Homo sapiens: one gene and its partner. The protein of the gene in region 1 interacts with the protein of each later gene in a biochemical or structural test. Each region holds a gene or a part of one and is shown on either strand. Other genes may lie near its edges.

Region 1 (3,675 bases):
AGGGACACTGTGAAGGTGATTCATCAGCAGTGTTTGCCTCGATTGGCTGGATGATGTAGTGTTTGCCAGGGACCTTCACTGAAAAGTTACTTTTCCCCCTCTCCACACTGCACTCTTTGGAGGAGTCACTGCAGCCCACGCCTAAGAAGTGGGGGTTCCATAGCCCTCCTTGAAGGCTGTCTACAGAAATTACTTATGATTTTGTGTAGATTTGCATATTCTCCCCATTTTGCCACTTAGCAATAGACTTATTTCACATTTTAGGTGAAAACCCAATATTATGCTATTTATTTTGTTGTTCAAATTCTTTTCAGCTTTGGCCACTGGAAGCTTTCTGTTGGCTCCTGTGTCCCTGTGACTTAAGCATATCAGTGCGTGCTTTCAGGCACTGCAAGATGCCCCAGGCTCATCTTGTACATTTCCTGCCCCAGGCCTGGAATAATCTTAGTACAGCACTATTTTTGAAAGTTTTCTGCAAGTCTGCAATTATTTCAAAATTTAAAGTATCTGAATGGCTACACTTTTTTGGAAAGGTACTGGACATTAAAATCCTGGGATGTAGACAAACAAAAGCACCAGCACAGTACAGATGGATAGCTAGTTTATTACAGGACTGCTGGTAGCACCAAACGAAACCAAGTCAATTCCTGTTAACGGGGCAGCTGAAGCGGTTGAGGGGTCTACCCCATGGAACCCCAGGAAGCAGCTGGAAAGCCTGAGTTCCCCCCATGCAGCAGCTAAAAGGGAATCGCACTGCCGCCCCCGACTCCACACAACCATCAGTGCACGAGGGCAGCCCCCAGAGGCTTCACATTAACTGGAAAAGATTACACAAAAAGAGCAGGAAACTACCAATTTATGATGCCGTGTCCATTTGCAGAGAGGTAATCAGCACCAAAATGAGTACTCAAGGCCCTGCGACCTCGGGTGAATTTCCTTTCTTATACTCCTGCTTTGCTGTCTTTTTTAATAGCATGTATCATGTTTTTTTTTTTTTTATTTTTAGAGACACAGTCTCATTGTCCCAGGCTGCAGTGCAGTGCCGCAATCATAGCTCACTGCAGCCTCAAACTCCTGGGCTCAAGTGATCTTCCCACCTCACCTCAGCCTTCCAAGTTAGCTGGGATTGCAGGCATGCACCACCATGCCCAGCTAATTTTTGTATTTTTTGTAGAGATGAAGGTCTCCCTATGATGCCCAGGCTGGTCTCGAACCCCTGGCCTCAAGAGACCCGCCCGCCTCGGCCTCCCAAATTGCTGGGATTACAGGCATGAGCCACTGTGCCCAGTCACTGTTCTTTATATACAAAAAAGAATGTGTGAAATTTTTAAAATGTACATTGCAAAAGACGATTATTCTACTCAAAATTTATTTGGTAAGATTTTATTAAGACTCTAAGTTCAAACACCCTTCTTGGGAAAAGCTCTACAGGATAACCACACATGCTCAACTACGGGGCCAGCTGCTGCAGCTGTGGGACCCCATCCTGTGGAAGAGGAGAGAGGCACTAAAAAGATGAGGTAGCCAGGCCTGTGCCCACACTACGAGACCTGCATCACCATGGTGTGAGGAGCAGCAACGTGGGTCAACTCGGGGCTGGGACGAGATGGAAGAGTAAAAGGCCTTTCTTCATAGGCCTGCCTATTTTATGACCACCAGGGTAGACTTTTGTAATTAAATTAAGGTCCACATGACTTTAGAAAGACAAACTAAAAAACCCCAACCAAACGAGTCCTAGCTGTAGCTAACTCTGATTTCTGTAAATTGGATCTGACTTTTTCTGCTTACATTCACTTAAAATCTCAAAGACTCAATGGGTGTGAAGTGCTAACACCTTGCGGCAAAATCTCAAATTCATCTGTGCCAGGCCCTCTGCACAGCAGGGCTCAGCAGGGCAGGCCAGGGCTCTGGTCCCTGGTCCCTTGCTGGGGGAGGTGTTCCATCCGGCCAGCGCCCGGCCATGCAGCCACGTGACTCAAGCACGGGAAGTGCAGGGGCCCAGACACATCCAGGCTAAAGGGCAGTGACTAGGGGAGGGCTGACCCCAAGCTGAACAGGGTTCTAACCAAACGCTCAGGAGCTCCCAGGTGACAGCAACCACGCCACCATGAACACACCACTGGGTCTGTACTGGAATTTGGGGGCCTCAAGGCTTCCAGGTGGCAGCATAAACAGGGAGGTGGGGCAGGATAGGAATGCCCCCCTCTGAGGCTCGGCAGCCGGGTGGAATGAACCACTCCCTCTCATTCAGTGACAGCACAGGCACCCTCCTCATTCTGGGCTACCCAGATCTTCCAGCCCTGTCCCTCCACCCCACCTCTCTTAGCCTAAGCAGCACTGAGGGCCTGGAGTGGTCTCTGTCCACCCCACCCCCACATGCGGGGAGCCTTCCCATACCCCTCAGCCCCACAGCACCAGCTCCACCCACCCTCTCCAGCCTGAGCTCCTGCACACACCCCAGCTGCCCTCACCCTGAGCTCAGTGCCCTCCTTGCTGAAGGGAACGGCTAGTACAGGAGGAGCTGGGGCCCAGGGGTCTGACTCCATCACCAAGGCAAAGCCCAGAGTGGTTGGGCTGGCGTGAGTGCAGGCTGGGCCCTGGTCTGAAATGAGTGTCTTTATTGCTTGTACCGTACAAATATGAAGACGAGGAGAAAGGCCAGTAGGGACGGAGAACTGTCAGATAACAACATCGCACACAGAGGAAAAAGACCCTCACCCACCCGAACCAACCCCACCCCTCCCCACCCTGCCATGAACTGTGTAGTACAGGAGATGGGATAGGGAGAGCAAACCCACAAAAGCTAAACTCCAAACACCCAGAGGTGTTGCTACAGGGAGGGGAGGCGTGGGCAGGGCAGCTCATGGATCACAGTGGGGCTCCTCCCACTAGGTCAGCACCCCTCCCCCACAGGATGAAATGCTCGGGCCAGGGATGGGGCCCAAGCCCACACACCATGCACACTGGAGGACACGCTGCCCTCACACAAACACACATGCACACACACCCACGTGTGCCTGCGTCCCGCCGACACACGCAGTCCGAGGCACGCACAGGAGTCCCACAGCACTGACATGGACGTGCACTCATGTTCAACCTTAAGGCTGCAGAACGTGGGGCCCTGGGGAGAGGGAGGGGTGAGGGGGGCCTAGGAGCCTCCCTTTTCAGAGGCCCCCCACCCCAATAGGTACCAGAGATGCCCACCCCCACCCCTCCCTGACCAAGTCCATGGGGCCCAATACTGTCCGGTGTAAGATTGTAACAGCCAAGGCTGGTGGCCCTCCACCCCCGCAGAGGAGAGGGTGAGCCCAGCCCATAGCCCCCAGTGGGGCCAGGCCAGGCCCAGGGTCCAGCGGGAGGTAAGGCCAGCTGGAAGGAAGCCCTAGTAAGGCACGGGGCTGGGAGGCAGGCAGGTTTGGCCCCAAATGTTCCTCCTGCCTCATCCATAGGGTGAGGACAGTTTGGTGGGGAGGAGGCCGGACCAGGAGGCGGCACCCAGCCCGGCCACTCCTGGTTCCCCATGGTACAGATCCTAGGATCTGACTCCATTCACCAGGGAGCAGCCCTAACCCCCAGCCCTGCAGCTCCCAAGGGCCCCTGCCTGCCCCTGGACATTATTGCTTTTCTGCCCCCATAGGGGGACAGCGGGTGGGGGATTGGACCGCCCCGTGCCTG
Region 2 (3,746 bases), 4.2 Mb from region 1:
CCTCTTGGGCCCGAGGTCGGACTAACCCTGCTTGGGAGGGCAGATGAAGTACCGAACGCCCCCAACGCTGCCATCGTTCTTGCCCTCAGGTTCGTCCAGCTCCACGCCCACCCACTGGCCGCTGGCAAACTCCGTGGTCCCACAGAACCGCAGTGTGCCCGTCTGGGGAGAGAAGGGAGGCGATGGCTAAGGAAGGAATGCTGGGAGGCCAACGTGGAGTGCCCACACACGGGCAGCAAGGTGGGTTGCATGAGGCCGCCCTGGGCCCAAACCCCAGGTCACACATCACCATTTGCTGGCTACATGACTTAACCTCTGTGTGCCTCAACTTCCTTTGCTGTGAAATGGGAACAGAAATTATACTCACCTTATAGGATTGTTAAAGAGTTGCCCTGTCTCATATAGTGAATAGTGACTAGCCACATAGGACAATGTAAATTTATTTATTTATTTATTTTATTTATTTTTTTTTTTTTCGAGACAGCGTCTCACTCTGTTGCCAGGCTCGAGTGCAGTGGCACGATCTCGGCTCACTGCAAATTCCACTTCCTGGGTTCAAGCAATTCTCCCATCTCAGCCTCCCAAGTAGCTGGGACTACAGGTGCATGCCACCACGCCTGGCTAATTTTTGTATTTTTAGTAGAGACGGGGCTTCGCCATGTTGGCCAGGCTGGTCTCGAATTCCTGACCTCAGGTGATCCACCCGCCTCGGCCTCCCAAAGTGCTGGGATCACAGGCATGAGCCACCATGCCTGGCCAACAATTTAAATTTAAACTAAGGCCGGGTGTGGTGGCTCATGCCTATAATCCCAACACTTTGGGATGCCAAGGCTGGAGGATCACTTGAGGCCAGGAGTTTCAGACCAGCCTGGGTGAAAATGGCGAGACCCTCTAATCTTAATCTGTTCCAAAAAACAAAGACAGCAAGACCCTATTCTCTATAAAAGAAAGAAAAAAGGTAACCAGGTGCAGTAGCTCAAGCCTGTTGTCCCAGTTACTTGGGAGGCTGAGGTGGGAGGATCGCTTGAGCCCAGGAGTTCAAGGGTGCAGTGAGCTATGATGGTGCCACTGCACTCCAGCCTGGGCAACAAGCAAGACCCTGTCTCAAAAATAAATAAATACATACCTTAGAAAGAAGACTCAGATGATTTTTAAATTTAAAAATAAATAAATTTAGTCCGGGCGCGGTGGCTCACACCTATAATCCTAGCACTCTGGGAGGCCGAGGTGGGAGGATCACCTGAGGTCAGGAGTTCAAGACCAGCCTGGCCAACATGGTGAAACCCCCATCTCTACTAAAAATACAAAAATTAACCAGGCATGATGGTGCACGCCTGTAATCCCAGCTACTCGGGAGGCTGAGGCAGGAGAATTGCTTGAACCCAGGAGGGTTGCAGTGAGCCCAGATAGCACCACTGCACTCCAGCCTGAGCAACAGAGCAAGACTCTGTCTCAAGAAAAAATATAAATAAATAAAAATACAAATCAATACATTTAAACTAAATTAAAAATGCATTTCCCCAGTCACACTAGCCATATTTCAAGTGCTCAATTGTCACATGTAGCTTGTAGCTACTTTACTGGACAGCACAGACAGAATATTTCCACCATTACAGAAAGCTCTGTTGGACAGGGCTGTTATAGAGAAATTAAAGCCCTCAGAACAGGGCTTGGTATTAAGTAAAGGATCAGCAAGTATTCGTTATTGAAATTTTTTTTCTATTTTAGAGACAGGGTCTCACTCTGTGGCCCAGGCTGGAGTGCAGTGGTGCAATCATAGCTCAGTGTAACCTTGAACTCCTGGGTTCAAGCAATCTTCCCTCCTCAGTCTCCCGAGTAGCTGGGACTACAGGTGAACGCCACCAAAGCCTGGCTAATTAAAACAACAACAACAACAACAAACTTTTGTTAAAAATAGAAATGGAGTATCCCTATGTTGCCCAGGTTAGTTTCAAACTCCTGGCCTCAAGCGATCCTCCCCATCTTGGCCTCCCAAAGTGCTGGGATTACAGGTGTGAAGCCACTGTGCTCAGCCTGTTAGCTATTATCATGCTGTAACTTTGGTCAGGGGACTTATTGAGCCTCAGTTTCATCTGTAAAATAGAGATAGTAAGCCACCTCATGGAGTGATCATCTGGCGGAAACTTTTTTTTTTTTTAGACAGGGTCTCACTTTGTTGCCCATGCCAGGGGTGCAGTGGCACGACCCTGGCACAGTGCAGCCTCAAACTCCTGGGCACAAGTGATCCTCTCACTTCAGCCTCCCAAGTAGCTAGGACTACAGGTGTGCGCCACCATGCCTGATTAATTTTTTCATTATTAGTAGAGATGAGGTCTCACCATGTTGATTGCCCAGGCTGGTCTTGAACTCCTGGGCTCAAGCGATCCTCTCACTTCAGCCTCCCAAGTAGCTAGGACTATAGGTGTGTGCCACCATGCCTGGTTAATTTTTTCATTTTTAGTAGAGATGAGGTCTCACTATGTTGCCCAGGCTGGTCTCGAATTCCTGGGCTCAAGCGATCCTTCTGCCTCAGCCTCCCAAAGTGCTGGGATTACAGGCATGAGCCACCACATTTGGCGGAAACATTTTTAACACATGTAAACTTGCTTAGCTGCAGTGAGACTTTAGTGAGTGTGGTTATTATCATTATGGGAGGCTCATTCACCTCTCCATGCCTCAGTTCCTGGTCCATATAATAGGCTAATTAATTAGTGCTGATCTTTTTTTATTTTTATTTATTTATTTTTTTTTGGAGACGGAGTCTCACACTTTGGCCCAGGCTGGAGTGCAGTGGCATGATCTTGGCTCACTGCAAGCTCCGCCTCCTGGGTTCATGCCATTCTCCTGCCTCAGCCTCCTGAGTAGCTGGGACTACAGGCACCTGCCACCATGCCTGGCTAATTTTTTGTATTTTTTTTGTAGAGACGAGGTTTCACCGGGTTAGCCAGGATGGTCTCGATCTCCTGACCTCGTGATCCGCCCACCTCTGCCTCCCAAAGTGCTGGGATTACAGGCGTGAGGCACCGCGCCCCGACAATTAGTGCTGATCTTAAGAGTGTTGGTGGAGGGACTAGAACAGTGCCTGGCACACACAAAGAGCATTTAGTATGCGCTGGACTCTGTTCTAATGGCCTTACGCATTTTAATTAATTTAAACCTCAACCAGCCCCCTAAGGTGGTTACTATTATTATCTCCATTTACGGATGAAGACATTGACACCCAAAGAGGCAGAATCACTGGCTCCAGGTCCACAGGTGGGAAGTTGCAAAGCTGAGATTTACCTGGGCAAGTCCCTGAGCCTGAGTTCATGACGCTGTGCTATGCTGCTTCTCTAAGGGGCAGTGATTAGTATTCCGTGTCTTCAGATAAAGGTTTTCACCTGTTGGAGCCTCTTATAGTCTGGCTTGTAAAATGGGAAGAGTCAACCCAACCTTCCTTCTGAATTGTGCAATGGATATGATTAGATCGTGCACAGCAGAATGCTTTCTGGATGGGGCCGGGCGCAGTGGCTTATGCCTGTAATCCCAGCACTTTGGGAGCCAAGGCGGGCGAATCGCTTGAGGGCAGGAGTTTGAGACCAGCCTGGCCAATATGGTGAAACCCGTTGCTACTAAAAATAAAAATAAAAGGCCAGGCGCGGTGGCTCACGCCTGTAATCCCAGCACTTTGGGAGGCTGAGGCGGGCGGATCACGAGGTCAGGAGATCAAGACCATCCTGGCTAACACAGTGACACCCTCTCTCTAC

The links. Proteins that work in one complex are often made in the same cells at the same time.
Region 2: the proteins of AKT2 (region 1) and CLIP3 form a complex in vitro, tested with the Homo sapiens proteins (one study listed by BioGRID).

What each region holds. Positions count from the first base shown.
Region 1 is NC_000019.10:40,229,733-40,233,407, forward strand, and holds the end of AKT2 (RAC-beta serine/threonine-protein kinase), read right to left. Parts: 3' UTR 585-3,675; downstream 1-584. UniProt on the Homo sapiens protein: Serine/threonine kinase closely related to AKT1 and AKT3. All 3 enzymes, AKT1, AKT2 and AKT3, are collectively known as AKT kinase.
Region 2 is NC_000019.10:36,019,145-36,022,890, forward strand, and holds part of CLIP3 (CAP-Gly domain-containing linker protein 3), read right to left. Parts: intron 241-3,746; exon of another isoform or gene 163-240; coding exon 27-162; intron 1-26. UniProt on the Homo sapiens protein: Functions as a cytoplasmic linker protein. Involved in TGN-endosome dynamics. May modulate the cellular compartmentalization of AKT kinase family and promote its cell membrane localization, thereby playing a role in glucose transport in adipocytes.